4 linked regions of the Homo sapiens genome follow. The protein of the gene in region 1 interacts with the protein of each later gene in a pairwise test. Each region holds a gene or a part of one and is shown in the gene's direction. Other genes may lie near its edges.

Region 1 (8,356 bases):
TCCAGGCTTCAGCCAAGGGCTCCCTGGCAAGGGGCTGTTGGGTAGAAGTGGTGGTGGGGGGGACAAAAGACAAAAAAATCCACCAGAGCTTTGTATTTTTGTTACGTACTGTTTCTTTGATAATTGATGTGATAAGGAAAAAAGTCCTATTTTTATACTCCCAACAAGCCTGTGTCCTGTGGTTCTTTTCCTTCGTGTGTGTGAGACCTATTACAGAGGTGTGGGATTCTGGTTTAGGAAGCCCCAACATGTGGCTTCTGAAGCCTCTGTGGGTACTGCCTTCTTCAGTAGAGAGGAGATGAGAAGGCACTGGAGGCCACGGGAGCAGTGATAGCTACTGCGAACTGAATGCTCACTGTGTGCCAGATGCTGCTCTGTGTGTATTTCAGGCCTTGCCTTAATCTAACTTTTATGACAACCCTAGGAGGAAAGTGCTATCACTCCAATGGATGAAGAACTGGAGCTCAGAGAGTTATAGTGACTTGCCCGTAGTAACACAGCTAGGAAGTGGTAGAGCTGGACATAAAACCTCTGAAAGGCCGGGCACAGTGGCTCAAGCCTGTAATCCCAGCACTTTGGGAGGCCGAGGTGGGCAGATCACTGAAAGCCAGGAGTTCGAGACCAGCCTGGCCAAGATGGCAAAACCCCATCTCTACTAAAAATATAAAAATTAGCCAGGTGTGGTGGCGCATGTCGGTAGTCCCAGCTACTTGGAAGGCTGAGCCACGAGAATCGCTTGAACCTGGAGGCAGGGGTTGCAGTGAGCTGAGATCGCGCCATTACACTCCAGCCTGGGTGACAGAGCAAGATGCTGTCTCAAAAAAAATAAAATAAGGCCGGGCGCCATGGCTCACACCTGTAATCCCAACACTTTGGGAGGCCGAGGCAGGTGGATCACCTGAGGTCAGGAGTTTGAGACCAGTCTGACGAACATGGAGAAACCCTGTCTACTAAAAATACAAAATTAGCCAGCCATGGCGGGTGGCGCATGCCTATAATCCCAGCTACTCGGGAGGCTGAGGCAGGAGAATTGCTTGAACCCAGGAGGCAGAGGTTGCAGTGAGCCAAGATCCCACCACTGCAATCTTGCAGTGCCAAGACTGAGCCAAGATCCAGCCTGGGCAACAAGAGCAGAACTCTGTCTCAAAAATAAAAATAAAAAACCTCTGAAAGATGACACTACTATCCTGGCAGAATGTGATTTCTTGATTATCTCAGCATGCAGTCACTGGGACCCTCCTTGCTGGGTATTATGGTAGATGGTGAGGATGCCAAGACACTGGAACAAGCAAGTAATACTACACTGGGATGAGCCCAACAGTTACAAGGTACAACAGAGCAGAGGGGAGAGAATGCTTAATGTTCTCTGGGCTTTTTGGAGGAGGGGATAGTCTGAATTGTATTAGCCACTTCCTAGGTGAACAAGAGAGGAAAAGGGTGTTTCAGTTAGAGAAGCAGGCAAATGTAATAGTGCACATGCAGTAGCACATAGATTTGGAACATCCTGGTGTGTTTCGGGGAAGGTAAACAGAATGTGGATCTTAGAGCAGGAATGATTTAAAAAAAAAGTGGAATGGGAAAAGTCAACAGAGGCTGGATCAGGGAGGACCAATAGTCCTAGGCTAGCAAAGGTGTATGAGCAGGGTCATGTGCTAGAGTAGAAACAGCTGCTTGTAGGTCACTGCCTCCTATGGGCATAGGATGGAGGGTTCAGGCTGAAAGGAGAGGAAACATGGACACTCAGCCATTCTCATCTATTCAGCCCACGTTCCCTGAGCCCTTCTTCGCCATAAGGTATGCAGACGAGCTCACAATGCTATATGGGAGACACACACCTCAACAAATATTTTTGGTGCCTCTACTGAGGCAGACACCGTGCTGAACACTGGGATGGTTACAAAGATAAGGAAGATACTGTTCCTTCCATAGACAAGGAGAGAGAGACACACATTGTGAGCAAATTTGGGTGTGAAATGCTAAGGAAAATTAGTGTCCATTTCTTCCTGTAGTAGCAGAGAGGACAGGTGCCCTATCTGGAAAGACAGGCTTCCCCAAAGAGCTGATAGCTGAGTTCAGTCTTGAAAGCGAGTAGTTCTCAGAGTCAGGCGCGGTGGCTAACGCCTGTAATCCCAGCACTTTGGGAGGCTGGGGCGGGTGGATCACCTGAGGTCAGGAGTTCAACACCAGCCTGGCCAACATGGCAAAATCCCGTCTCTACTAAAAATACAAAAATTAGGCTGGGTGCCATGGCTCATGCTTGTAATCCCAGCACTTTGGGAGGCCGAGGCGGGTGGATCACGAGGTCAGGAGTTCGAGACCAGCTTGGCCAACACAGTGAAACCCTGTCTGTACTAAAAATACAAAAATTAGCTGGGTGTGGTGGCAGGCACCTGTAATCCCAGCTACTCGGGAGACTGAGGCAGGAGAATCGCTTGAACCCAGGAGGCAGAGGTTGCAGTGAGCCGAGATCACGCCCCTTTACTCCAGCCTGGGCGACAGAGCTAGACTCTGTCTCAAAAAAAAAAAAAAAACCAAAACACCAAAAAAAACCCAACAACAAAAAATTAGCCGGGTGTGGTGGCGCATGCCTGTAATCCCAGCTAGTCAGGAGGCTAAGGCAGGAGAGTTGCTTGAACCTGGGAGGTGAAGTTTGCAATGAGCCAAGATCATGCCATTGCACTCCAGCCTGGACAACAAGAGCAAAACTCTGTCTCAAAAAAAAAAAAAAAAAGTGAGTAGTTCTCATGGTTAAGTGGGGAAAGGAGGGCACTGCATTCTAAGCAGAGGGAACAGCATATGCAAAGGCACATGAGAAGACAGGCGCATATTTGAAGAAAAGTGGTTCTCCAAATATGGTTGGAGCCTGCATTGCCTGGTGGGGAGTGTCCCAAGAAGCAGGTAAGGACCAGTCTGTGCCAGATTAAAATGTCTGGGCATTACCTAAGGGCAGGCAGTAGGAAGTTGCTAAGCAGAAGAGTTACACTGTAAGGTTTCTGCTTTTTTTTTTCTTTTTTTTTTTCTTTTTTTTTTTTTTTTTTAATGAGACAGGTTTCTCTGTGTTGCCCAGGCTGGTCTTGAACTCCTGGGCTCAAGCAATTCTCCCACCTCAGCCTTCCCAGTAGCTGAGATTATAGGTCTCTGCTTTTCAGGAGATAGTGGGTGGGAGCCGGAGAGTCTGGAGGCAGGAGGCCAGAGAGGAGGCAGGCAAAACAGAACAGGGCAAAGTGATGAGGTCTCACCTTAAGCAGGGGCAGTAGGAAGGGAAATAAAGTGCGCCCCTTCCTGACCTTCATCCTAGAGTTTTCCTTTTGATTTCTTTGCCTCAAGAAAATGGGCCAGGCGCACAACTAAAGTTGGCAGTTTGTTGTGACAGGCCCTTGTTCTGCTTCCAGAAGATAGATCCCTCTGTGTCTTGAAGATATAGCCTGGCTCTGTGTGTCGAGGTGGGGGACAGGAGGGCTGCCATGTCATGGAAAAAGAAAGGCCTGATATGTACTAGCCATACGTCCCGTGATTGAAAAGGCATATGAACAATAAAAGCCTCAATTTCCTCATCTCTAAAAGGGGAGATCATGTCCCTTGCTCTGTGTAACTCAATTTTTTGTTCATTCCTTTGTTTATTCATTCAATAGTTATTTATGGAGCACACACAATGTGCCAGATTCTGTGCTAGGTGCTGGAGATACGGTGGTAAACAATATAGAACCCACCCCTGCCTTCAAGGAGCTTGCTGTGAGGATAAATGAAATGATTATGAAATCACTCTGTTAACTATACTGCATGGGTCTCATTGTTTTTCTTTTTTTTTTTTAGAGACGGGGGATCTTGCTATGTTGCCCAGGCTGGTCTCGAACTCTTGGGCTCAAGCAATCTGCCGCCTCAGCCTCCTAAAATGCTGGGATTACAGGAATGAGCCACCATGTCCAGCCCATTTCTTTCTCTCTCTCTCTCTCTCTTTTTTTTTTTTTTAGAGACAGGGTCTCACTCTATCACCCAACCTGGAGTATAGTGACACAGTCATGGCACTGCAGCCTTGACCTCCCGGACTCAAGTGATCCTCTCGCCTCAGCCGCCCAAGTACAAGTGCTCATTACCATGCCTGGCTAATTTTTTTCTTTTAATTTATTTTTTGTGGAGATGGGGTCTCACTGTGTTGCCCAGTCTGGTCTTGAGCTCCTGGCCTCAAGTGATTCTCTGGCCTCAGCTTCCCAAAGTGTTAGGATTATAGACAAGCGTGAACCACCACACCCAGCCCTATTTTTCTATTTCTCATCTCCCAATAAGATTGCAACCTCAACTAGGGCTACCTACGTAGGCCTAATCAGAAAACCTGAGTTTAGTCTTACTTCTTTGTTTCCTTCTCTCCATAGCCTCATTGAGCAAGGCACTTCCCCTCTCTAGATGATTCGTTGTTCATATTCAGCCCAAGGTCTATGATTGCTGTTTTTGTTTTTAGAGACGGAGTTTTGCTCTTGTCTCCCAGGCTGGAATGCAGTGGCACAATCTCGGCTCACTGCAACCTCTGCCTCCCGGGTTAAAGCAATTCTCCTGCCTCAGCCTCCCAAGTAGATTACAGGCATGCGCCACCACACCCAGCTAATTTTTGTATTTTTAGTAGAGACCATGGGCAGGCTGGTCTCGAACTCCTGATCTCAGGTGATCCGCCCGCCTCGGCCTACCCAAAGTGCTGGGATTACAGGCGTGAGCCACAGCGCCCAGCCGATTGGTTTCAACTATTAGAAGAAGGGATAAACTGGCCCGGAGCGGTGGCTCAAGCCTGTAATCCCAGCACTTTGGGGGCGGGCGGATCACCTGAGGTAAGGAGTTCAAGACCAGCCTAGCCAACATGGTTGAAACACCGTCTCTAGTAAAAATACAAAAATTAGCCAGGCGTGGTGGCAGGCGCCTGTAATCCCAGCTACTCGGGGGGCCGAGGCAGGAGAATCGCTTGAACTCGGGAGGCAGAGTGTGCAGTGAGCCGAGATCGCGCCATCGCACTCCAGCCTGGGGGGACAAGAGCGAGACTGCGTCTCAAAAAAAAAAAAAAAAAAAAAAAAAAAAAAAGGAGGGATAAGCTTCTGGGAGAAAAAGTTCCGGGTAAAGAAATCTCACTATAAAAAAGAAATAGTAGCAGAAACAGCTGGGAACTCCTAGACACACTTAACTTTCTTAGGTATCCCTTCCAGTCTCCTCCCAACCACTCCTTTCCTATTTCATTTCCACTCCCCACCTTTAGTAGCTGCGGTCTCTTTAAGTGCGCACTTTCGGTGTAATGATAGGCGATTGGGCCAATAAAGCGTTTCGTCCTGGAGTTAACTGGTTTGTCCCTTTCGGGCTGCCGTCCTACAGATCCGCCATATTGTCTACTGAAAGCTGCCGCTGAAGCTGCCGCCGTTGCCTCCGCCGCCAAGAGTGAGCGAGCGGACCCGCGATGGGTGAGTGAGGAAACCACGCAGTAGGGTTCTTGGGCTCAGGGAGTGTCGGGGCCTGGGATTTGGCGAGAGCCTGTCTCCGGTCTGCGGAAGATGTCTGCATCCCCTCTAGCTAGGTCTGAGGGGAAAAGTCAGGCCGGGAGTGCCCCTCTTGCCAGTTTTGGGCCGAGCTAGGGCCCGTGCTGGAAGCAGTCCTTTGGTGCTGGTTTCGGGGACACCTTGGCACGCCTGGAGCCCCCCACATGGTGGCCTCGGGCAGGAGCCCACGTGTTCCTGGGAGGTAGAAAGGGGCCTACTCTCTGTCCTGCGCCCAGACTGGGGCTGGGGGACGGGCTCCCGGCGGCAGGCCTGGGCGGCGCTAAGGTAGCTTTCTCCTGGGTTGTGTTTGGCCAACGCGTGTCTTGACTAGATTCAGTGGCTCCCCTGAACTCAGGGAAGTCCTACCTACGTAGCGAGGTGGAGTCCTCTAGTGAGGGGACGTCAGGCGAGCCAGCACTAGGCCGGTAAGCATGGGCAGCCAGGCCGAGGGCAGCTTGCGCCGCTGAAGGCCGGGAGAACGGAATCAAGGCGGAAATAGTGTGGTTCGGTTGGGCTCAGAGTGGCATCGCTTGTGATGGTAGAACACCAAAGGCCAAGTCCTCTTGGCCATCTTTAGGTTGAGGACTTTAGGTTTCTGGGCTGGCCCTGGTAAGGAGAAAAGGAGCGACCTGTTGATCTTTCTGAGGGGACTCCGGCTGGCAAGGCCTCTGTTCAGAGAGAATACCATGGCGAAGTCTTTGGATTTAGAGACAGAACCAACAGTGGTAATTCCTCTAAAGCAGTAAAAATTGTGAAATTTGCTAAGCTCTTTCTACGTACGGGCATTGTTCTGATTGCTTTACATGTCTTGTTTTACTTAATTTGTACAACCTAAGGAAATAGATGCTACCATTGCCATTTTACAGATGTGGAAGCTGAGCTTTAGAGAGGTAAAGTAACTTACCCAAGGTCATGCAGTGGCTAAGCCAGGGTGAACACTCCCAAGCCTAGTTTGTAACTGCTGTTTGTTGTTGTTGTTGATAGAGTCTTGCTCTGTCGCCCAGGCTGGAGTGCAGTGACGCGATCTCGGCTCACTGCAACCTCCTGCCTCCCGGGTTCAAGCGATTCTCCTGCCTCAGCCTCCCGAGTAGCTGGGATTACAGGCACCCACCACCACGCCCGGCTGATTTTTGTGTGTTTTTGGTAGAGACAGGGTTTCGTCATGTTGGCCAGGCTGGTCTCGAACCCCTGACCTCAAGTGATTCGCCTGCCTCGGCCTCCCAAAGTGCTGGGATTACAGGTGTGAGCCACTGCGTCCAGCCTGTTTTTTTGTTTTGTTTTTTTTTTTAAATGACCTGGCCCTCTAGTGGTTGGGCAGGGAGAAAAGGGGAAAAAAGCTTTTAACCCTAGGCAAAGTTGTAAATGTGTTTGGGTTTTCTGTTTGTTTATTTTGTTTTGTTTTGCTTTTTGTTTTTGCATGTGGGCCCATTATGAAATCTTTTTTTTTTTTTTGAGACGGAGTCTGGCTCTGTTGCCCAGGCTGGAGTGCATTGGCGCGATCTCGGCTCACTGCAACTACCACCTTCCCGGGTTCACGCCATTCTCCTGCCTCAGCCTCCCGAGTAGTTGGGACTACAGGTGCCCGCCACCACGCCTGGATAATTTTTTTTGTATTTTTTTGTATTTTTAGTGGAGACGGGGTTTCACCGTGTTAGCCAGGATGGTCTTGATCTCCTGACCTCGTGATCCTCCCGCCTCGCCTTCCAAAGTGCTGAGATTACAAGCGTGAGCCACCATGCCCGGCCACTTTGAAATCCTTTTTCTGAACGAAACTGAAGGAGTCCAGAGTGAATTGATAACTCTAATTATTGTGTGTGGGGCAAGCAAAATGAGAATCTGGAATTGAATTTTTTTTTTTTTTTTTTTTTTTCTGAGAAGAAATTTCACTCTTGTCTCCCATGCTGGAGTGCAGTGGCCAGATCTCGGCTCACTGCAACCTCTGCCTCCCGGGTTAAAGCAATTTTCCTGCCTCAGCCTCCTGAGTAGCTGGGATTACAGGCATCCACCACCACACCTAGCTAATTTTTGTATTTTTAGTAGAGACAGGGTTTCACCATGTTGGCCAAGCTGGTCTCGAACTCCTGACCTCTGGTGATCTGCCCGTCTCGGCCTCCCAAAGTGCTGGGATTACAGGCATGAGCCACCGCGCCTGGCCTGGAATTGGATTTTTAAAGATCTGAGATTCTAAGGAAGCAGAAATTATTCACTTGAGCTTCAAGGCAATGACTGTAGAATCAGATCTGGTATTGGAAGTCACTTAAATGTCAGACACAACAACACATATGGAAAGCATCTAGCACAGTCCACAATAATGTTTTTCTTCCTTTCTGAGCCTTCCTTTTCTGACCTCTAGAAAGAAGGGGTGGGGCTGTGTTATCAAGATATTTGGGGACTAAATAAGATAACAGCATTTGGGCTGGGCAAGGTGGCTCAGGCCTATAATCCCATAGGCCGAGGCGGGTGGATCACCTGAGGTCAGGAGGACGACACCAACCTGACCAATAAGGTGAAACCCTGTCTCTACTAAAAATACAAAAATTAGCTGGGTATGGTGGCGTGCTCCTGTAATCCCAGCTACTTGGGAGGCTGAGAAGGGAGAATTGCTTGAACCCGGGAGGCGGAGGTTGCAGTGAGCCGAGATCATGCCAGCCTGGGCAACAAGCTAGACTCCCTCTCAAAAACAAACAAATAAACAAACAAAAAACAGATAACAGTGTTTGGAGCCTAAAGGGCTCCATGAATATCAGAACAGATTCTTTTCCACTTTCAATAATGTTCCTTTCCCTTAAGCACTCTGGTTTCCAGGTTTCCCTATTGAGTAATAAGACTGATAGGCCTTTCTTAGT
Region 2 (8,464 bases), on another chromosome or scaffold:
TGTCCTTAAGCCCAGAAAAAGAAAACAAATTTTCATTTTTGTAGAAGAATATCTTCAAGGAATATATATTGTAGAAGATTATTCAATGACATGGAAATATGTCTATAATATATTGTTAACTAAAAAGCAGGTTATACTATCCCACTTTTGAAAAATATTTTTAATTGTGATATTTCCTAGGTATTATACTTTTTCACTTCTATATGTGAAATATCTCTTAAAATTGACATGAATATTTGATGTTGTGGGTTCCCCCTCCCTCCCTCCTGAAAAGGTCTTACTAATGAGATGATGCTTCTCACTATCTGAGACTTGAGAAAATGCCATATGTGTGTAGAGAAAAGACTGGAGGAATAGACAACAAAACATGAACAGTGCTTGGCCCTTTAAAAAAGCCTTGGATGGAAATTCTTATTTTCTTCTCTGTAAGTATGGTTTCCAAGTTTTCTATAGTACATGCATAAATAAACATAAAAAGAAGCCAGGGGCCTAGATGCCCTTATTTTCAAGGATAAGGATATTTGCTACTTGCAGCCTTTATCAAAATAAGAGACTAGCAAATTTAGGACCACGCAAGCCACCTCAGTAGTACCAGGGTCTAGAGTGAAAAAGGACTAAAGCACAGGCCCACAGAGGGGTGCCTGGTTGGACAGGAGCAGGTAAGGCAAGCTTCGGAACAGATGGCAGAGTTCAGTCAGCAGGAGCTGGACTCTTGGATCAGTCTCAGTTCCATGTGGACAAGGAAATCCCTGTGAGGTATGAGAGGGTCCAGATGGCAGGGATGCTGGCTAATTATGGAGAAGGGCACTTCGATATTTTCCAGTGTAGCTCAGGAGCATGTTCCAAGTTCCTCAAGAGAGAACAAGGACTGTGTGAAGCAGAAAATGAGCCTGACTATTTGAGATTTAAAAACATATTTCCCCCTTAGCCAAAGGGGTAGCACATGGAGCAGAGATGGAAACAGCAGAATGTTCCTAGCCTTGGAAGAGGCTGGCAGGCTCTGGGATGCTGCTTGGGTAAGGAAGGGACTCAGGCTTGCAGTGACTGTGGCTGGGGTGCAGAGAAAAGTGAAAGGCACTCAGCTTCTCTAATGTAATTATGTCCAACCCTCAAAAGTTCTGAGATGAGCAGCCTGAGGCCCAGAGAGGCTATATGTTTTGCCCTAAAGCACACAGCCAGTAAGTGGTAGAGTGGGATTCTCATCTCACTGAAGTCCTTCTAAAAGGGAAAACCACTGAAGAAAGTTATATTAATACAGATTTATCATAATGATAGGTGGAAAAAGCAAGTTTCTAAAAAAAATCTTCAATCTGATCCCAACACTGAAAAACAATATGTATAGTACAGAAAAAAATTGCAAGGATATACAACTTAATGGTGGTTATATCTCAATGGCAGGAACTTTTAAATTTATTTTCTATTTTTAAATTTTTTCTGCACAATGAGCAAGTAAACCTTTTTAAAACAGGAAAAAAATGTTTTTTTTTTCAGAAGCAGTTGTGAGGACTAGTCGATCAAAGTAATGAGAATGAATTACAGTGAGCCCTTAATGACAAGAGAAATCTAGCTTCTTAGTAGTTATATGAATTTCAGCAAACCTACTTGGCTTTGCTGAGTCTGTTTCCTAAATACTAAAAAAAGGTGGATTATCGTCCTGCCCGGGGAGCTGTTGCTAGGATTAACTGAGAAGCAGTGTACACAAAAGTCCCATGCATAGCACTTGGCATAAGGATGGTGCTTAATAAATATTAGACCTGACTCTTGGTAGTCATAGCTCTTCCCTGCTGCACCAGGAAGGCATAGCACCTCCAGCTGGTTCAGAAAGCAGAAAGGAACCTGGGCAGGGGCCCGTTACTGGGCCTAGAGCTTCCTGTACACCTGACACATTCCCCTCCTCTGTTTTTACCATGTGGAGACTAACAGGATCTCCTCCCTTAACCCATTTTCACCTATTTGCCTCTCCCTCTCCCCTTGTCTCAATAATCTCAGCTGCCTAGATGGTATTTTTTAGTACATGTGACACTATTTTCAACATAACATACATTTGCAAAGCATCTGCTATGTTCTAAAGATGGACCCCAGGTCCTCCTCTCCATTCCTATCATCCAGAAATACTTCTCTGAGTTCTAATTGAGAAGTTAGATCCTTCAATAACTACCATTTGTTGCCGAACTGCAATAATAGAGGTACACACACTAAGTTGTGGAAACTCCGGGCTGGGGAAGAGATATGTTCTTACCAGTGTATGCACATGCGTGTAGAAGAGGACGGGAAGAATGGAAGTATTTAAAGAGTAATCATTTCCTCACTCTATATTATATATCAGCTTCATATACTGTCGTTACTAAAATGTGCCCATTCTGTTAAGCTGGTTTCAGAGCTAGTTAAATCAATGACCTAGTAGGGCTGTTTCCTCTCATCTTCAGATTTATTAAAGTCTGTCCACAGCCACAAAGTTTGTGGGGAAGGCTCAAGTCATATGATGACATGACAAGTAACATGCTGTTGCTGAGGCAGCGGGGTGGGGCACAGGTCCAAGGAGTTACAAACTGGCTCGGAGTGTTCCGCTCAGACATTTTAGAGCTTTTTGGAATACATAGCCATTCTGATTAACAGGCAGTTTTAAGGCTCAAGGGGTGCCAAAACCTGGCATTATTTGATATTTTTATTACTTACTGGTCAAACGTTAACATCAATGGAAGTAAAAAGAAGTTCATTCTTAGTTTGGTCTAACAAACTGTTTTTACATTTCCTTATTCCCTTTCAGCCCTTGTTGAAATCCATAAATCCATGGACATGATAATACTTGCAGATTAGATATAATTGAATATTCTACATCTTTCTCACACACAGATGCAGAGAATGATGTTAAGAGCAGCAATATTCAAAACCCAGGCGCTGTGACAACAGCCCCTTCAGGCCTGTAGACTGACAGTCCCGTAGAAGATGTTGGCAGGGCAATGAGACACACCCTGCTCTGCCTGTGTTATTTATGCCTCTGGCAGTGAAGCCCCTGACAAAGAAGCATGTCACTGGAACACATGCTCTTTGTTCACAGAGGTGCATGCCAGCACCGGCTGCGTAAGAACGGACAGTGCCGTGTCTGTAGTCTCTCCTCCTTTGGCTCTTTTGCCTTCTATTTGCAGCACATTGTGGCTATGTTTATTAATTACTTTGTGGCTTAATACTATAAAACACACATCTATCCTGTGAGCTATGTACCCTAGGGAAAGAGTCCTTCATACCCTCCAGTTGGCCATAAAGAGAGGACAGAGTCTCAAGATTTGCCCTGATGCTAAGGATTAATACCACCTCCTCCGGGAGCCATCAGGTTACCACTCTCTAGCACAGAGCTACCACGTTTAAGACTCCTTCAGCACCATCCCCCCTTTTCCTGCACGAGGACACTTGCATGCTGTTTGGTATTAAAAGCCCTCTGCAACTGTTCCCAACCTACAGCACCAAAGTAGCCCCCCACCATGCTATGACTCCACTCTAGCCAGACTGATGATGTAGCACAAGATGGTGGGCTGTGGAGTCAGACCTATCTGGGTGTAAATCCTAGCTCTGCTTCTTGCTGGACGTGCAGCTTAAGATTCCTGAGCTCCTCATCTGTAAAATGATTAAATTATCACCTACTTCAGAAAGTTGTCTGAGAATTAGAGAAATAATATCAAGCCCCTTAAAGCAGATCCTCAATAATCGCTTGTTGGCTCATGAAACCGATTTTTTGTTTTGTTTTGTTTTGTTTGGTAAAAGCCCTCATTGCATAGCCCTGTGGTTCTCATAACCTTAGTTACAGACCTTTTGTAACCCTGAGAACATCTGTCTCCATTTTCCCTTGTCATAAAGACGTCTGCTGAGACTACAAACGGAGTCAGGGAACTACTACCAGAAAGTTTTTCTTTTCCCATATTCCTTCTAAAACTTTCATCTTCAAATGTTAACTCACTCAGTATTTTAAAAGCTGATATATAATTGGTTTACAACTAAATTTGGGTTGTTTGCCACTAAAACTTAGGTAAAATAGGAAAGGGGGCACTTTCTTAACTTCCATAAAACTTCATGTTAATACATAGAATTTCAAGTTTTTCTTTAACAAATTGTTCTTAGTTTTTGGTGCTTCTTGTCAGTACGATCTTCTTAGATTGTATTTGATTTGACACATTATGTATTTACTTATTGTACGCTGAATATAACGTCATTCCCCGGTGTTCTGCAAAGCACAACACTCATCCCGATCTGGTGCTCTAACCCCTGGGACCCTTTGGGCCAGACCATGACAAAGGCTGCCTGCCAGGTTTCAGCGAAACTTAGACCACCAAGAATTTACACACTTCACAGGGGTGCCCTAAGGAATAAATGAGATTAAAAAAAAAAGTCTGCGGGGAAACCCTGAGGCCCTATTAGAAATGCTAATCGTTTCCTTCTCTAGCTCCTATTAAAATGTTAGAAAACCGAGGGAGACTCTCCTGAACAGGGTGGGGATGCTCGGCTGCTCTGTGGCTTAGCAAGCGACCCCAGCTGCCCTGCCAGGGCCGGTCGGCCGCGATTCCGTCCCGACGGGGGGGATCCTCGGCGGCACTACGGACGCCAGTCTGCCAAGGAGGCAGCGGGGTTCGGCCTGTTGGCCCCAGACTGTGTGGCAGGCAAAAGGTGAACGTCAAAGCCTGTCCCCGGCTTCTTCACATCTCGCGCCTCCGCGGGCGTCGGGCCGCCCCCGTGAGCCTCCCCGGATGGACTGGGTTTTAGGGACCCCCGCAGCCGGACTGCAAAGCTTCCCACCAACCCTTCCCGCGAACCTCCCAGCCCGGGCCGCAAGCCCAGCTCCGGGCGCGACGACGTGGGGCCGGAGGTAGAAGGAGTCTCAGCGCGGCGGGGGCCGGGGGGCGGGGAAGCCCCCCCACCCACGAGAAAGGTCTTACATCAGCCGCCCCACGTGCAATCGGAGAGAGGGAGGAAGTCGCTCCTCTATTCGGGCTGCGCCTTTCCCCAGCCTCCGCCCCGCCCGCCGCGAGTCTCCCCGCCCCGCCTTGGTGCAGCCGCGGCCGCCGAGCCGAGCAGCGCCGCGCGGGGCCGAGTGGAGCCGAGCAGCTGCCGCGCCGCGTCGCCGGTTTAAGCGCAGTGCAGGCCGCGGCCGGGGGCGGCGGTAGTGAGCCCAGCGCTGCGCTCCAGCCCCCTTTTCCCTCCATGGTTTCTCTCCGCTCCCGTGAGTAACTTGGCTCCGGGGGCTCCGCTCGCCTGCCCGCACGCCGCCCGCCACCCAGGACCGCGCCGCCGGCCTCCGCCGCTAGCAAACCCTTCCGACGGCCCTCGCTGCGCAAGCCGGGACGCCTCTCCCCCCTCCGCCCCCGCCGCGGAAAGTTAAGTTTGAAGAGGGGGGAAGAGGGGAACATGGACATGAAGAGGAGGATCCACCTGGAGCTGAGGAACCGGACCCCGGCAGCTGTAAGCAGAGACCCCTCTGGGTGCCCTCTCCCCCGATGACTTGCATGTAATGGTGGCCACCTGCGGGGCCCGGGCTGAGGGTTCGCCGGCCCCGGCGCGGGGAAGAGCGCAGCTCGTGGGCTCGGACGGGGAAGGCGGGCGGGCGCGGAGGGGGGAGCGAGCGCGCGAGGATTAACTCTTTGCCGCCCGCGGGCCCCTGGGGCGGCCGGGGGGAGGCAGCGGTGTGGGGGAAAGCAAACTTTGAGCGCTTCGCCCGCCGGGGTCTTTCCCCTGAGGGAGCGCGTGTGCAAGTGGCCGGCGGCGAGAGAGGGAGGCGGGGGTTGTGTAACGCTGGGAGCCATGTTTGCAGCCTCCCGGGATGCGCGGCCGGGCGGAGGCCCGGCCTGCCGAGGAGCTGCGCGGCCATCCCCGCCTGGGCCAGGCCGGGCTCCGCGCGCCCCGGGCCGGCCGGGGAAGGGGCGCGGGTGGGGCGGGACGGGGGCTCTTGTGGCCGGAGCTCGCCGTGGGCGCCGGCCCGGCCGAGGTCAGCAGTCGTGGGGCGAGGAGGGGGCTTTTTTCTTTTGAAGGGAGCGAGAAGCCCCCTCGGGCGCCTGGAGGCCTGGGCGGGCGCGGCCCGGCGCGCGGAGCGGGGGAGGGGCGGGCCAGGGCGGCGGAGGTGGCGCAACCGCCGCCCCTCCCGAGGCCAAGTTTGAAAAAAGGACGTGGTTCCCGCCATTTTTCAAGCCCAAAAATAAAACTTTCTCCCCCGTTCTCTCGCTCCCTCTTCGCCCTCGGCCTTGCCCACTCCTGCCTCCCAGGGGCAGCCCGGGTCGACCAAGGCCAACCGTTGTGGCGACGGCCTCGCCCTTCCCCCTGTGCCGCGGCGGCGGCGCCCGGGGCCCCTGCCCTTGCCCCGGGAGGCTGGCCCCTCCGTGTGGGCGGGCGGCGGCTCTTCACGCCAGCCGGGGCGCGCCACAGGCCGCCGCAGCGCCATGTTGGCGGGTGCCCGTCTCCCTGCGCCTGGTGAGCCGGCCCACGAGCTTGGCCTTGCCCGCCCGCCCTCGGCGCTGGCTGGCGGCCGCCTCTTCCCGCGCCGAGCCCTCGGTCTGTTTCCCCCCGCCCCGCCGGGGCTTGGCTCCCACTGGCGGGAGCCGCGCGCCGCGGCCGCCGCCGACTCATCCCGTCGCGGGCGCGCTGCCGACCCCCTCCCCCTTCTTAAAAGGGCAACGGCAGGCGGCCGCCCCCGCCCCGCGCCGGGCGCGCGGGATTTTGGGCGGGCTTCGGCTCGGCTCGTGGGCCGGGCGGCCTCTGGCCTCCCACGTGCTTGAGAGCGGCCTGGTGCGGTCGGCCGCGCGCCTTGCGGGCTGTAGGGGCCTGAGGGCGGCCCTCTTGCGGCGCGGCTGCGTGGGCGTGGGTCCGACCTGTGGGAATTGCCCCATTCGTCTCCCGGGTTTAGCGCGGCTGCCCGCCGTCGCGAGCCCCCCCCCCGCCGCGGACCGGCGCGGGCCAGTTAGCGCCGCGGCCGGGTGCCCCAGCGGGCCAGTGGCTTTCCCGCGGAGGGCGGCCCCGCGGGGCCTCCCGACCCGCTCTGGGCTAAGCGAGCGGCCAGGTTTCGTGCCCTCAGGTGGCTGTGGTTAACAAGTCGCGAACTTGTGGGAATTCGTCGACCAGGGTTTACCTGGTGTGCTCGACATTTTAAATCCTTGCTCTCTAGTCTTTGAGGTCACCACTAACGCGGGGCGGGCCGGGCTCCACCGCACGGCGCTGTCCTTCCCGGAGGGCCCGCGAGGGTGGGCCGCTCCGGGGGTTGCGAGATGGAGGGTCGCGGGCGTGCGTTCTTCCGACCTTCCGTCAGACATTTTGTGCCCGCCACGTGCTAGCCTATCGCCCAGCTCGCGCCTCAAAACTTGAGAGGCTTTCTTGGCTTGAGAAGGTGTTTATTCCAGACTTTTCCATTGCGGCGTAATTGCAAATCCGTAGAATATGGAGTAGCTAAAATTAGCCAAAGTGCCCGCAAGAGAAGTACACACGTGGGTCTTCAGAAATGCGTTAAAATCTAGAATTTGAATTCTTTAGGATATGCTCAAACTAAAGGTCTTTTAAAATTCTCAAGAGTAGTGTTCCCTCTGGGAAACACAGTTGGTCTGCTGTTCCCCTTAGAGGATGTTTTCATATATGAAGTAATATTGCTTTAAAAACACATGTATATCTACAGGTGTTCATTTTTCTTTTTTCTGTTTTTCTTTTTTTTTTGAGACTGAGTCTCTCTCTTGCCCAGGCTGGAGTGCAATGGCACTATCTCGGCTCACCTCAGCCTCCGCTTACCGGGTTCAAGCGATTCTCCTGCCTCAACCTCCCGCGTAGCTGGGATTACAGGCATGCGCCACCATGCTCGGCTAATTTTGTATTTTTAGTAGAGGCGGGGTTTCTCCCTGTTGTTCAGGCTGGTCTCCAACTCCTGACCTCGGGTGATCCACCCGCCTCGGCCTCCCAAAGTGCTGGGATTACAGGCGTGAGCCACCGCCCCCGGCCACCAGTTCATTTTTCAAGTAATCAGCTTAACCTTCTTGCCAGTCAGGCCAGAGCCATTTAATTCAGTTAAATTAAAACATTTTCTCTGTAATACTATCCACATTTCAAGTGCTCAGACGTGACAAGTGGCTCGTGGGTGCTGCGTTAGGCAGCACTGGCCTGCAGAATCCACTGGTTTATTAAGTAAACATTTTAAGCCTGAGAAACCATTGAGGTGGTGTGGTGCTTTTTGCACTTGGGAGAGTTGATGAGGCCTTGAGAGAGTGTTGTGGGAGCCAGCTAAGATTGTGGGGGTAGAGGAAGGTTCCCTTAGGGAGACTGAGACCAGTGGGAGTTAGGTACCCAGTTGGGCGAATAAAACTTTGACCTAAAAGTGAAGGGTTTTTCAGGAAAAAATGCTGTAGATTTTGAAGGAAATTCTAAAAGAGAGTTTAAAGTGTTTTCGCACAGAGGCGTCATCCTTAAGGCAAATGAAAAGTTTGGAGATCACTCTCTTAAAATCACA
Region 3 (7,500 bases), on another chromosome or scaffold:
TAAAACTAAAAGACATAGTGCTTTTTTTTTTTCTAGTTTTTATATTTCTCTTGGTGGTAAGCCTGACATCTTTGATAATCAGGCTCTTTTATCATTCCATAACAACTTTGATTTACTTACGTGTCTACTGTTAAACACCTAGCTATGGAAAGAGAAAGCTACAAAAAAAAATATGAATAATTAGTTTTTCTAATCCTTACTTAGCTTTTTCTCTCATCCTGAACAAGTGTTGTGTTGTCTTATATTAGAATTTTAAATATCTGCTATTTAAAATTCATTTTTGAAAGTTAACATTCAAAATGCTGCCTTTATTTTCCAAAACACCAGACACGTACTCTTTAATGATAGAGGATCAGATTAATCAACTCTTAGTCATATTTTTAGTTACTTATCAGAAGTTACAAATTACATAAATGGATGTGTAATAGTTTATGTTACATATTGGGCAAAAGATAGTAGGTTATTAGAGGTAACAGTTTATACTTCAGTAAAATTGAAGAAGAGGTAGTTTATTGTGACTGATTTCTCTCTTTTAGGAGAATTTTTGGAAAAGGTACGACAGAAGAAAAAACGTGATATCACTGTTTTGGACCTGGGATGTGGTAAAGGTGGAGATTTGCTGAAATGGAAAAAAGGAAGAATTAACAAGCTAGTTTGTACTGGTAAGATAAATAATGATATGGGAAAGAATAATTTGTAGTCAGATAAATGGAAAATAAGAAGGATTGTCTCAAATTGCAAGATATCTGGGACTATGCATGAGATGGGTTTTTTTTAAATTAATTACGGCCTGACGCGGTGGCTCATGCCTGTAATCCAACATTTTGGAAGGCTGAGGTGGGTGGATCACTTGAGGTCAGGAGTTTGAGACCGGCCTGGCCAACATTGTGAAACCCTGTCTCTACTAAAAATACAGAAAATTAGCTGGGCATGGTGGTGCACACCTGTAATCTCAGCTACTCAGGAAGCTGAGGCAGGAGAATCACTTTTACCTGGGAGGTGAAGGTTATAGTAAGACAAGATCGCACCACTGCACACCAGCCTGAGTGACAGAGCAAGACTCCGTCTCGAAAAAAAAAAAATTAGTTACAAGACTTTCCTGATAGTTTCATAGTAAGATTAATAAGCCTGGGATAACGTTTCCTTCCCAAAAGGAAGGAAGCTATCAAAGATGGTCGGAGTCATGTCTAAAGGGCAGACTTGAAAAGGTTTCCATTGGCAAAAATAGGGCAATTTTAACATTAAAAAAAAAATAGCAGTTGGACACATCAAATCAGAAAAACACATTGTTCACCCTTGAAGGTTGCTAAGAAACTATTCTGAAACTTATAAATTAAGGGGAGGAAATCAAACATTTGTAATCAGATGGTTGAAAAGGGCAGTTCCTTTTTTTTTTCAATCAGATAAAGAGGAATTATAGAATTAGAAAATCATAATTTTTTTCATTCTTTATGAAATAATAGATCTAGGCAATAATTTTTTTTTTTTGCTACGGAAGCCATTAAGGGAAAAGTCGATAGTAACGCAATGAATCAATCAATCAATCACCTTAGCCCGGTGGTTAGTCTTAACACTGAAGTGGGACAAGCAGACGTCAGCGTCTTTCTGATGTGGTGAGTTAAAAGAGATACATACCCCCACTACTGAAGTACTGCCCAAATTAGCAGTTCTCAGATTTTTTGGTTTTATGAGCCCTGTATACTTAAAAATTATTGAGGACCCCAGAAAGCTTTTTTGTATGTAATTATGGTAAGTAGCTACTGATATTTACTATATTGGAAATTAAAGCTGAGAATTTTGAAAATATTTTTTAGTTCATTAAAAGTAACAAGGCTGGCTTTTACATTTTTGTAAATCCCTTTAGAGTTTGAAATTGCAGGAGACAACTGGATTCTCACACCTGTTTCTGCATCCAATATGTTGTGATTTTATTTTGGTTGATAAGTAGTTGTAAAATAAAGAAGTATTTTAATAGCCTTTTTTGATAATTGTAGATATTCCTCTGTTACTACATCAAAACTCAGTAAGTGGTAGTTTCTTAAAGAGTAGTTACAATATGGAATCTGAAACCTTAGTGATGAACTTTTTATACCGTGTAACATTAAAATCCATTAATCTGTCTTGCACTTCCTGCATGATTTTATAGTACTTGGAAAATACTGTTCACTAAAGTTATGCAGATCTAATTGTTGAGAATCAAAAAATCACGTGTTTAATATCACTGCCAATCAGAAAAGTATTGGGAAGAAGTCCAGCCCACAGTGATCAATACGAGTTTTTCAGGGTTGTAATTCTTATTTGAAAGTCAATTTTATTTTTGGCAACAAATACACTGTCCCTTGTCTCCCTTTAAATTAGCGATCCCTAACCTTTTTGGCACCAGGGGCCGGTTTCATGGAAGACTGTTTTTCCACAGAAGCGGGGGGATGGAATTCTACCTCAGATCATCAGGTGTTAGATTCTCATAAGGAGTATGCAACCTAGCTTGCCTGCCACTCACCTCCTGCTGTGCAGCCTGGTTCCTAACAGGCCGTGGACCTGTACTGGTTTGTCGCCCAAGGGTTGGGGAACTTTAAGTGACAGGTTCACTTTGTTCATTTTCAAGAAAATATGTGCCAGGTACTGAAGTCTGCATAACCGTAGTTTGTCAGTCATTCAAGTCAAAATAATTTTCTCAGAAAAAAAGTGGCCAGTACAGCTCAAAACTCAGAACAGTCATATCAGTACTGTTCTTGAAGATGACCATCATACTTTGTTAGGTAGCAGAAATGTTTTGTTACTTCCCATTTCATCACACAACATTTTAAAAAGTGTGTATTCAAAAGCCCAGGTTTAATAAAATTAATTTTCACTATTTTATAAAGGGTATTCTTAAATGAAACTGTTTTTCTCCCCCTGCATATTGTATAGTGGTGAAGAATACATGAAGTACTGCCAGTACCATTTAGTGCTGCTACTTTGTATTTGTGATAAGATCCCATTGCCTTTGCATTATCAGTGTGAATCTTTAAACAGGGAAAAGGGCAGGCTGGGCACAGTGGTTCATGCCTATAATCCCCAGCACTTTGGGAAGCAAAGGAGGGTGGATCACTTGAGGCCAGAAGTTAGAGACCAGCCTGGCCAATGTGGTGAAACCCCATCCTCTACCAAAAATACAAAAAATTAGCTGGGCATGGTGGCACACAACCTATAATCCTAGCTACTCGGGAGGCTGAGGTATGAGAATCACTTGAACCCTGGAGGCAGAGGTTGCAGTGAGTGAAGATTGCACCACTGCACTCCAGCCTGGGCAATACAGCAAGACTCTGTCTCAAAAAAGAAAAAAAGAAAAGGGCTAATAACATTTTATTATAAAAATATACCCTTGGTATTTCCAAAACTGGGCTTATTGATAGTGTTAGGTTTTATAATTCAGATTGGAATAAAACTTTCTCCTTTTTACTTTGAATAAGCATTTAAAAATCATGATAGAACTTTTATAGCGTCCGTACCTATTGAGACGCTTTTAGTTCCTCTTGAAAACTGATAGGGTATTTGCGTCGGAACAAAGCCCTTTTCTTTTCTTTTAAAGGAAATAAAACCTTTTCACTGGTACTAAGGCTGACTTTTATGCCAGAGTTTGTCAGTTGAGATCAATGTCTAGATTTCTGGCATTCTGTGTTGATACTTACTAATACCCTTCCATCCTTCCAGATATTGCCGATGTTTCTGTCAAACAGTGTCAGCAGCGGTATGAGGACATGAAAAATCGTCGTGATAGTGAATATATTTTCAGTGCAGAATTTATAACTGCTGACAGCTCAAAGGTACAGTTTCTTTCTTTGGTCAATTTATTTTTTACATTTTTAGTTTGGGTAAATAATTTGTTTTAAAAATCAACTCAATTTTTACTTTTTTAAAAAAATTTACTCTTATTTTTTGAGACAGGGTCTTACTCTGTCACCTAGGCTGGAGCACAGTGGCACGATCTCAGCTTACTGCAACCTCTGCCTCCCAGGCTCAAGTGATTCTCCTGCCTCCCAGCCTCCTGAGTAGCTGGGACTACAGGCACATGCCACCACACCCAGCTAATTTTTATATATTTTGTAAAGATGGGGTTTTGCCATGTTGCCAAGGCTGGCCTCAAACTCCTGAGCCCAGGTGATCTGCCTGCCTCCCATAGTGCTGGGATTACAGGCATGAGCCATGGTGCCCGGCTACTCATTTTTTAAAATGTGTTTTGAAACTTTAAAAATCTTGGAATATGCATTTTCACTTTTGACTGGAAATTCTATTATGATAAATTCCCTTGAATGACTCACTGAATACTTGTAATTTTTTGCTTTTAATAATTTGAATTGAAATTAGCTGTTGCTTTTCGGTATGGACATCATTTATTTTCCAGTATTTTGAAATAGAACTGAACTTATACTATGTTTTGTTCACCTTGTAATTTATTAGTTTCCCAACATATCAGAGCCTGTTTGGTTTTTTCCTACCTTCCACCTGTTTCTGAATTTCTTAAAAAGAACTGCTTCAAGGGTGAAAGTCTCACCATGAACTTTTTGTTCTTCATTGACTTATTGACTCACTGAACTGTTATAGATACCTTTAATCATACACATTTTGTTTGAAATTTGAAAGTGAAAAAGATAAGTGGGAGTATACTGCCAGAAAGTTGTAATACCTTTAAAACATTTTTGCATTTTTTAAAAAATGCCAAACGCCAGATGTTTTTTAACTCAAGTTATTGTTGAATGTCATTTTATTTTAGCTGTCAAGTAAAGTGATGAAAGGATCAAGTTGAAATGTCATAATTGACTAATATATTTTAAACATGATTTCAGAATTCCTCAGTTTTTAAATACTGTGAAAGTGGGAATCAAATTATTCTGTTAAACTAGAATACATGCATGATTTCTGTGTGTCCTTTATTGTACAAGGGAAAGATTGTGAGGGAAAGGAAGAACCTTACATTCTAGAAGTTAATTTACTAAAAAGTTTTTAATCTTTGTTGTAGTTACCTCACAATCTTAACTCATTTTAATTTGTTTCAGGAACTTCTGATTGACAAATTTCGTGACCCACAAATGTGTTTTGACATCTGCAGTTGTCAGTTTGTCTGTCATTACTCATTTGAGTCTTATGAGCAGGCTGACATGATGCTGAGAAATGCGTGTGAGAGACTTAGCCCTGGGGGCTATTTTATTGGTACTACTCCCAATAGCTTTGAATTGATGTAAGTACTTCTAAATATATTGTGGTTTATAAAATATTCAGTATTAAGTAGCAAATGTTTATCAGAGGTAGATTTTATTAAAATACGCTATTTTAATCTTATAAGTGTTGAACACTTTCATAAGATATTTGAGTAGACATTCAAAATTTAAATTCAATAGACAAATTTACAGGTGAACTTTTAACAGTTCATCTTTGTGTGTAAGTTAGAGACTGAAGTTATAGTGATAGACAAACTGCAGGTCAGATACACAGGCACAGAGATGAACCAGCTGTCATGAGAGTGATACCTACTTCCAGCTTAATTTTATTGGTGTGACTGTTGGTGATCTTTTAGTATATTGCTTCTTAAAAGTAGCTCAAATCAGGAGAGTGCAGTGGCTCATGCCTATAATCCTAGCACTTTGGGAGGCCAAGGCAGGAGGATTGCTTGAGGCCAGGAGTTTGAGACCAGCCTGGACAACATAGTGAGACCTTGTCTTTACAAAAAATTTACAAATTAGCCAGCATGGTGGCACGCCCCTGTAGTCCTTGCTCAGGAGGCTGAGGCAGGAGGATCACTTGAGCCCAGGAGTTGGTGGCTGTAGTGAGCTATGATCACACCACCACACTCCAGCCTGAATGACAGATTAAGACCTTGTCACTTTAAAAAAAAAAAAAAAAGGTAGCCCAGATATAATTAAAAGGCTAATCAAGTGTGCATCATGTAGTTTTTCACATGCATAATCTGATCAAAATAAGTCTACACTAATCACAATTTTAATCTTTTTATTTTGGTTGGGGGATAACCTTGATAGAAGACGCCTTGAAGCTTCAGAAACAGAATCATTTGGAAATGAAATATATACTGTGAAATTTCAGAAGAAAGGAGATTATCCTTTATTTGGCTGCAAATATGACTTCAACTTGGAAGGTGTTGTGGATGTTCCTGAATTCTTGGTCTATTTTCCATTGCTAAATGAGTAAGAAGTCATTAATCTGTTCACTCTTTTCTTTTTGTCTTAAGGGAAAGAAAAGCGGGGAAAAGCAATATTTATTTTACTCTTTATTTTAAATGAGGGCTAAAGAAAAAGTATAATCTTGTTTTTTTGTTTTTGTGTTTTTAAAAAAAAAAAACAAAACAAGACTAGCTTCACATCTAGGGGATTATTGCCATAGGTCTCATAATAGCCTAACTTAGTTTTCTCTCATTCCTGGAATTTTTTAATCCTGTGGGTGAAAAAGGGAACCAGTTGCCTTCAGCTTGTGGCACAAAATGCCTGACACTGCAAATAGCAAAAGTTTTTTTTTTTTTTTTAGTGACTACTGGTAACTTTGATGATAAACAATGAGTCTTCATAAATCAAAGATCCGGCCGGGCGCGGTGGCTCACGCCTGTAATCCCAGCACTTTGGGAGGCCGAGACGGGCGGATCATGAGGTCAGGAGATCGAGACCATCCTGGCTGACACGGTGAAACCCCGTCTCTACTAAAAATACAAAAATTAGCTGGGCATGGTGGCGCGCGCCTGTAGTCCCAGCTACTCGGGAGGCTGAGGCAGGAGAATGGCATGAACCCGGGAGGCGGAGCTTGCAGTGAGTCGAGATCGCGCCACTGCGCTCCAGCCTGGGCGACAGAGCGAAACTCCGTCTCAAAAAAAAAATAAATAAATAAATAAATAAATAAATAAATAAATAAATAAATCAAAGATCCTCCTTTTGACAGAGATGAGTATTAAAAGTTGTTTGCATTTCACTATAACTTTGAAATTGCCTATGTCTCACAGGCAATGTTGATGATAAAATCCTGATTCAGGAATGTATTCTCCCATGTGCCTGAATTCCTAGGAGTCCTGGCAAACTGTAGACACAGGAAAAGCTGGGGGTAACTGGGCCTTACCAGGTAAGGCTTCAAGGCCTTGTGATACACCTTGGTTTCCAGAGTTTCCCCGGTGGGGAGAGTATAAAAGTCAGCTTAAATGTAGGCCATGTCATGATTGATTGAACTTGATTTTCTACTTTTTAGAAACAAAAATCTTTTGTTTTGAATATTAACTGAGAAAAAGAAGAGGTATATTGTCTGCTTACTTCTGCTTGGTGCTTATTTTAATTGTAACTCAGTCAGTCTGTAAAATTAGGGTTACAGTATTTTCAGGAGTTCTATAATAGCTTATTCAATAATATAAGAAAGCCAAGTAGCATTGTGACTGAACATGAGGAAAATACTGTGCATAATTTTATAAATATAAACCATTTACAAAATTTAAAAATATCAATTACATTTTCCTTTTAATTTTTAAAACTA
Region 4 (7,500 bases), about 22 Mb from region 1:
AAGTGAGCTGCCTGCCTCAGGCTCCTGAGTAGCTGTGACTACAGGCATGCCACCACATCTGGCTAATTTTTTTTTTTTTTTGGAGACAGAGTCTTGCTCTGTCGCTCAGGCTGGAGTGCAGTGGCATGATCTCAGCTCACTGCAAACTCCGCCTCCCAGGCTCACACCATTCTCCTGCCTCAGCCTCCGGAGTAGCTGGGATTACAGGTGCCCGCCACCATGCCTGGCTAATTTTTTGTATTTTTAGTAGAGACAGGGTTTCACCGTGTTAGCCAGGATGGTCTTGATCTCCTGACCTCGTGATCCACCCGCCTCGAACTCCCAAAGTGCTGGGATTACAGGAGTGAGCCACCGCGCCTGGCCTAATTTTTTAATTTTTTGTAGAAACTGGGTCCCACTGTTTTGCCCATGTTGGTGTTGAGCTCCTGGGCTCAAGTGATTCTCCTGCCTTGGTCTCCCAAAACACTGGGATAACAGGTGTGAGCCACCACACCTGGCCTCGATTTTTTTGTTACATAAATGATCATATAATATGCTGATAGGTAGATGGATGGATGGATGCTAAAGCTCACTATTTGCCTATGACATTGAGAAATGGGCTTTTGCATACATCTAGGTGGACAATACAAATTAAGGCTTTTTACAAAGTAATTTGGCAATATCAATAGAAATTTAACTGTATAGGGGAATGAGGTGAAGTACAGAGTGTCAGTTGGGGAAGATGAGAAAATTCTGGAGATAGATAGGAGCGATGGTTGCACAACAGCATGTTTGCAGTTAATATCATAGAACTGTACGCTTGGGTATATTTTACCATAATTTCAGTCAGTTAATTGATCAGCTAATAAGCTGGAATCCCTAAAGAAAGAGAATCTGTGATTATAAAACAATATTGGCCAGGTGTGGTGACTCATGCCTGTAGTCCCAGCACTTTGGGAGGCTGAGGCAGGCAGATCACTTGAGGTCAGGAGTTGGAGACCAGCTTGGCTAACATGGTAAAAACCCCATCTCTACTAAAAATACAAAAATTAACCAGCATGGTGGCATGCGCCCGTAATCCCAGCTACTCAGGAGTCTGACTCAGGAGAATTGCTTCAACCCAGGAGGCGGAGGTTGCAGTGAGCCGAGATCACTCCAGTGCGGCCTGGGGAACAGAGCAAGACTCTGTCTCAAAAAACAAAACAAAACAAATAATATTGATCGTAATATTTCCTGTGCATAAAGTCTAATTTGTTATACCTAGTGTGAAACCTAACTTTTTATCTAGGAAGGTACACAGTTGTCAAAGGCATCATCTCTCCTGTTGGTGATGCCTACAAGAAGAAAGGACTCATTCCTGCCTATCACCGGGTCATCATGGCAGAACTTGCTACCAAGAATTCTAAATGGGTGGAAGTTGATACATGGGAAAGTCTTCAGAAGGAGTGGAAAGAGACTCTGAAGGTGCTAAGGTATTTATGGTGTAATCAACTTTGTCAGTTCTGTGTAAATGGCTAAGCGGCTTATGTTTTTACCATGTTTCAATGTTGCTTACATCTGTGAACATACAGATTTGCAAAACTGTCACGTGTGTTGTAAGCCATTCCTGTGGAAGGTTACTACAAGACTGTAGAGCACAGCACCAAAGGATGGGTCTTCCTTAGCCCCTCTGTGTCTTTCATTATGTTTTAAGTTGTTTGCGGCCAGGCGCGGTGGCTCACGCCTGTAATGCCAGCACTTTGGGAGGCTGAGGCGGGTGGATCAGCTGAGGTCAGGAGTTCGAGACCAGCCTGGCCAACATGGTGAAAACCCGTCTCTACTAAAAATACAAAAATTAGCCGGGCATGGTGGCGCATGCCTGTAATCCCAGCTACTTGGGAGGCTGAGGCAGGAGATACACTTGAACCCCGGGGATGGAGGTTACAGTGAGCCAAGATTGTGCCACTGCACTCCAGCCTGGGTGACAGAGCGAGACTCCATCTCAAAAAAAAAAAAAAAAAAAGATGTTTGCTTGCTTGCTACTATGTGATACCACTGTTAGAAAATAGAGGAAGCCTGCCTGGGCTTTCTGTGCCCCAAATGAGAAAGGGAAAATTGCAAGAAGATGTTATTATCATCAGTCTTCCTAAGTATAAAAGAGACAGGCAGATAATTTAAGGAAGAGAAGCATCCAGTGCTGCTTGATCATGGACAGGCCTGATTCGTGTGCTGCTTCCATGACAGCATCTGGGCAGGGAGTCACAGATCTCTGTGCCCATACCTTTGAAGCAGTTCTAGTTAAGGGTTCAAAAACCAGAGTAAGTGACATCTAATTATTTCTCTTTTTTTTTTTTCTTTTTGAGACGGAGTCTCGCTCTGTCACCCAGGCTGGAGTGCAGTGGTGCATTCTCGGCTCACTGCGACCTCTGCCTCCTGGGTTCAAGCAATTCTCCTGCCTCAGCCTCCCAAGTAGCTGGGACTACAGGTGACTGCCACCACGCCCCGCTAATGTTTTTGTATTTTTAGTAGAGATGGGGTTCTACCTTGTTGGCCAGGCTGGTCTTGAACTTCTGACCTCAGGTGATCCACCTGTCTCAGCCTCCCAACACCTAATTATTTCTTTTCTTTTCTTTTTTTTTTTGAGATAGAGGTTCACTCTTGTTGCCCAAGCTGGAGTGCAATGGCATGATCTTGGCTCACTGCAACCTCTGCCTCCCGGGTTCAAGCCGTTCCCCTGCCTCAGCCTCCCAAGTAGCTGGGATTACAGGCGCCTGCCACCACGCCCGGCTAATTTTTGTATTTTTAGTAGAGCTGGGGTTTCACCCTGTTGGCCAGGCTGGTCTTGAACTCCTGACCTCAGGTGATCTGCCCATCTCGGGCCTCCCAAAGTGCGGGGATTACAGAGGTGAGCCACCGCACCTGGCTGACACCTAATTATCTCTTAATGTTATTTTGATTTTTTTAAACTTTATTTTCTTTTTTTTGTTGGAGATGGGGCCTCGCTATGTTGCCTATGCTGACTGATCTCAAACTCCTGGCCTCAAGCAATCCTCCCACCTAGGCCTCCCAAAGTGCTGGGATTACAAATGTGAGCTACCATGCCTGGCCTGTTGTTATCTTGAGTTTAAAATGAAAGGGCTTTCTGAAAAGCCTTTCTGTTTAGTATCTGTTCTTAGAGTTCTGAACTTTCCAGTGACTGACTGTATCATTTAGGGTTCAGACTAGGAAATAGAAACCCACTCTGGATATTTTAAGTGGAAAGAGATTTAAGTACTTAGGCAAAAAGTACTTAAAAGAGCTGAGGCCGGGCGTGGTAGCTCATGACTATAATCCCAGCACTTTGGGAGGCTGAGGCCGGCAGATCACCTGAGTCCAGTAGTTCAAGACAAGCCTGGCCAACATGGTGAAACCCTGTCTCTACTAAAAATACAAAATTAGCTGGGCCCATACCTGTAATCCCAGCTACTAGGGAGGCTGAGGCAGGAGAATTGCCTGAGCCTGGGAGGCAGAGGTTACGGTGAACTGAAATTGTGCCACTGCACTCCAGCCTGGGCAGCAGAATGAGACTGTCTCAAAAAACAACAACAAAAAAAAGTAAAAGGGCTGGAGAAGTGGAAGTCAGGGTCACTCCTCCGATGTTGCCGTCAGAGTTCAACAAACCAATTCCGCTTCTGCTGCTATTGAACTGTCTCAGTCTCCTGAAGTTGGTGACGGACAGTGGACTCCAGCGTCTAGCCACCACACCCACACTAGAAAGGATTACTGGCTATAAATAGCGCAATAATAGGATCAGGCCGGGCATGGTGGCTCACACCTGTAATCCCAGCACTTTGGGAGGCCGAGGTGGGTGGATCACCTGAGGTCAGGAGATCGAGACCACCCTGGCCAACATGGCAAACCCCGTCTCTACTAAAAATACAAAAATTAGCCAGGCGTGGTGGCACATGCCTATAGTCCCAGCTACTTGGGAGGCTGAGGTGGGAGAATCCCTTGAACCCGGGAGGTGGAGGTTGCAGTGAGCCGAGATTGCGCCACTGCACTCCAGCCTGGGTGACAGAGTGAGACTCCGTCTCAAAAAAAAAGATTACTTGTCAGGCTCCACAGTCCCAGGATGATGGCCTCTGTCCTCCTTCTGCCTTCCAAATCTCTCAGGAGAGAATCTCATTAGCAGAAATCGCAGTCAAGTCCACAGCCTGCTGCAAGGACCTCTGGGAAGTGTGTTGGGCAGGATTGGGCACTGAGTCAGTAGGAAGTATCTCACACAGTGATCTCTCAAGAGGACTTCCTTTTCAGACTTGGCAGGGAGAAGAGTCTCCACTGCTTGATGGCAAAAAATTCTCCCATGAGGGAGCAAGTTCCTGGGCCACAGCCCTACCCGACCCTCTGGCTTTATAGTAACCTTATTGCCCATTAAATAGTCAACTCAGCTGCTCAGAAGGGTTGGGATGTAGGGGAATAAAGGCCCACAGTTGGATCCCACAAGTGTAGTTGATGTTATTTGGGTAACATTGCACAGTTTGAAAACAGTGGGCACCCTGCTGCCAGCCCAGAATAGAGCTATACACAAATCCTGCTTAGGGCCCCTTCCTTTAAGGCCTCAGGCCCTTGCCGCTCTAGGACCTTCTCCTTGGCGTTCTGGTTCTTTGTCACAAGATTAAGCCACACTCTTCCATGGTCAAGAGTGTGGGCTCTGGACCAGACTGCTGGGGTTCAAGTCCTGGCTCTGCTATTAATACTTTTAAGTTAAATGACCTTAGGCAAATTAGTCAGTGTCCTCTGTCAATGGGGTAATAAACAATTCTGATATGAGAGATGAGCAGCACATTAAAACCAGAAGTATTTTCAGTGAAACTAGCTGCAAGGTGGCAGTAATATAGTCGCTTTGTAATAACCAAAATGTTCAGGCTGATCATGGTGGCTCACATCTATAGTCCCAGCACTTTGGGAGTCTGAGGCAGGAGGATTGCTTGAGGCCAGGAGTTCAAGACCAGTGTGGGCAACATAGTGAGACCTCATCTCTCCAAAAAACTAAAGTTAGCTGAACATGGTGGCACGTGCCTGTAGTCGCAGCTATCTGGGAGGCTGAGGCGGTAGGATCACTTGAGCCCAGGAGTTTTGGTTGCAGCGAGCTATGATTGTGCCACTGTGCTCCATCCTGGGCAATAGAGTGAGCCTGTGTCTCTGAAAAACAAACCAAAAAAACCCCAAAACATTCACTCAATCAAATTGTTATTGAGGCTGGGCGCAGTGGCTCACGCCTGTAATCCCAGCACTTTGGGAGGCCTAGGCGGGCAGATCACAAGGTCAGGAGATCGAGACCATCCTGGCTAACATGGTGAAACCCTGTCTCTACTAAAAATACAGAAAAAATTAGCCGGGCGTGGTGGTGGGCGCCTGTAGTCCCAGCTACTCGGGAGGCTGAAGCAGGAGAATGGCGTGAACCTAGGAGACGGAGGTTGCAGTGAGCTGAGATCGTGCCACTGCACTCCAGCCTGGGCGACAGAGTGAGACTCCATCTCAAAAAAAAAAAAAAAAATTGTTATTGAATGCCTCCTCATAGACTCTGCTAGGAGCTGGAGTAGCAACTGTAAGCCTCCTTTCTCCTTCCCTTACGGAGATAATAATATTTATGATATAGGATGTTGAGAAGATTTTTTTTTTCTTTTGAGGCGGAGTTTTGCTCTTGTTGCCCAGGCTGGAGTGCAATAGCGCAATCATGGCTCACTGCAACCTCCACCTCCTGGGTTCAAGCGATTCTCCTGCCTCAGCCTCCCGAGTAGCTGGGATTATAGGCATGTGCCACCACACCCGGCTAATTTTCTATTTTTAGCAGAGACAGGGTTTCTCCATGTTGGTCAGGCTGTGTCTCGAACTCCTGACCTCAGGTGATCCACCCGCCTTGGCCTCCCAAAGTGCTGGGATTACAGGTGTGAGCCACCACGCCCAGTCGAGAAGATTTTTAATTTTTTTTAGTCTTCCACAACAGTCATCTTATGTTGAGAAGACTTAATCAGATAATCCATGTAAAGGATTCAGTGTAATGTGTGGCATATGATAAATAATGTTGGCCAGGCACCTATAATCCCAGCACTTTGGGAGGCTGAGGCGGGCAGATCGCTTGAGGTCAGAAGTTCAAGACCAGCCTGGCCAACATGATGAAACCCCGTCACTACTAAAAATACAAAAAAAAATTGGCTGAGCGTGGTGGTGCGCCCCTGTAATCCCAGCTGCTCGGGAGGCTGAGGCAAGAGAATTGTTTGAACCCAGGAGCCAGAGGTTACAGTGAGCTGAGATCACACACTGCACTCAGCCTGGGCGTCAGAGCAAGACACCATCTCAAAATAATAAATAAATAAATAATGTTAATGATATTCTTTTTTTTTTCTTTTTTTGAGATGGAGTCTCACTCTGTCGCCCAGGTTGGAGTGCAGTGGTGCGGTCTTGGCTCACTGCAACCTCTGCCTCCCAGGTTCAAGTGATTCTCCTGCCTCAGCCTCCCGAGTAGCTGGGATTACAGGTGCCCGCCACCACACCCGGCTAATTTTTTGTATTTTTAGTAGAGACGGGGTTTCACCGTGTTAGCCAGGATGGTCTCGATCTTCTGACCTCGTGATCCGCCCACCTCGGCCTCCCAAAGTGCTGGGATTACAGGTGTGAGCCACTGTGCCCAGCTATAAATAATGTTAATGATATATTCTAATGGAGCATGTGAGAAAGAGAAATATTCTATTGTTTTGTTGTTTTATAGACACCATCAAGAGAAATTGGAGGCTAGTGACTGTGATCACCAGCAGAACTCACCTACTCTAGAAAGGCCTGGAAGGAAGAGGAAGTGGACTGAAACACAAGATTCTAGTCAAAAGAAATCCCTAGAGCCAAAAACAAAAGGTTTGTATGTTTTAGCAGGACCCACGGACTAGAGTTGATAAGATTCTGTAGCTGAGCAAACCCCTGTGTATTTTTTTTTTTTTAGATGGAGTCTCGCTCTATCACCCAGGCTGGAGTGCAGTGGCATGATCTCAGCTCACTGCAAGCTCTGCCTCCTGGGTTCATGCCATTCTCCTGCCTCAGCCTCCTGAGCAGCTGGGACTACAGGTGCCTGCCACCACGCCTGTCTAATTTGTTTGTATTTTTAGTAGAGACGGGGTTGCACCATGTTAGCCAGGATGGTCTTGATCTCCTGACCTCATGATCCGCCCACCTCGGCCTCCCAAAGTGCTGGGATTACAGGCGTGAGCCACAGCGCCTGGGCCTTATTTTTTTTGTTTTATAGAGATGGGGTCTCACTATTTTGGCCAGGTTGGTCTTGAACTCCTGGCCCCAAGCAGTCCTCCTGCCTTGGCCTCCCAAAGTGTTAGGATTACAGGTGTCAGCCACTATGCCTGGCCTTTATTTTCATTTTATATTGCATACTTGTGGGTGTCTGGAAAATGCCCCTTGTTAGTTGCATGAAGTGAAGGAGAATAAAAGGCACTTGGAGCTTATTTCTCCTGCAGTGGTCTCTAATCTTTGAGGTGTCCTGGGTCTCTTTTGGGAATCTGA

What was found.
Region 2: the proteins of KPNA6 (region 1) and ANP32B interact in binary tests that used the Homo sapiens proteins (3 or more experiments, as listed by UniProt).
Region 3: the proteins of KPNA6 (region 1) and RNMT interact in binary tests that used the Homo sapiens proteins (3 or more experiments, as listed by UniProt).
Region 4: the proteins of KPNA6 (region 1) and NMNAT1 interact in binary tests that used the Homo sapiens proteins (3 or more experiments, as listed by UniProt).

Annotation. Positions count from the first base shown.
Region 1 is NC_000001.11:32,102,700-32,111,055, forward strand, and holds the start of KPNA6 (importin subunit alpha-7), read left to right. Parts: upstream 1-5,356; 5' UTR 5,357-5,431; coding exon 5,432-5,435; intron 5,436-8,356. UniProt on the Homo sapiens protein: Functions in nuclear protein import as an adapter protein for nuclear receptor KPNB1. Binds specifically and directly to substrates containing either a simple or bipartite NLS motif.
Region 2 is NC_000009.12:97,978,162-97,986,625, forward strand, and holds the start of ANP32B (acidic leucine-rich nuclear phosphoprotein 32 family member B), read left to right. Parts: upstream 1-5,179; 5' UTR 5,180-5,394; coding exon 5,395-5,448; intron 5,449-7,274; exon of another isoform or gene 7,275-7,360; intron 7,361-8,464. UniProt on the Homo sapiens protein: Multifunctional protein that is involved in the regulation of many processes including cell proliferation, apoptosis, cell cycle progression or transcription.
Region 3 is NC_000018.10:13,736,474-13,743,973, forward strand, and holds part of RNMT (mRNA cap guanine-N(7) methyltransferase), read left to right. Parts: intron 1-536; coding exon 537-662; intron 663-3,693; coding exon 3,694-3,806; intron 3,807-5,036; coding exon 5,037-5,218; intron 5,219-6,014; coding exon 6,015-6,179; intron 6,180-7,500. UniProt on the Homo sapiens protein: Catalytic subunit of the mRNA-capping methyltransferase RNMT:RAMAC complex that methylates the N7 position of the added guanosine to the 5'-cap structure of mRNAs. Binds RNA containing 5'-terminal GpppC.
Region 4 is NC_000001.11:9,974,325-9,981,824, forward strand, and holds part of NMNAT1 (nicotinamide/nicotinic acid mononucleotide adenylyltransferase 1), read left to right. Parts: intron 1-1,267; coding exon 1,268-1,451; intron 1,452-6,706; coding exon 6,707-6,846; intron 6,847-6,931; coding exon of another isoform or gene 6,932-6,975; exon of another isoform or gene 6,976-7,442; intron 7,443-7,500.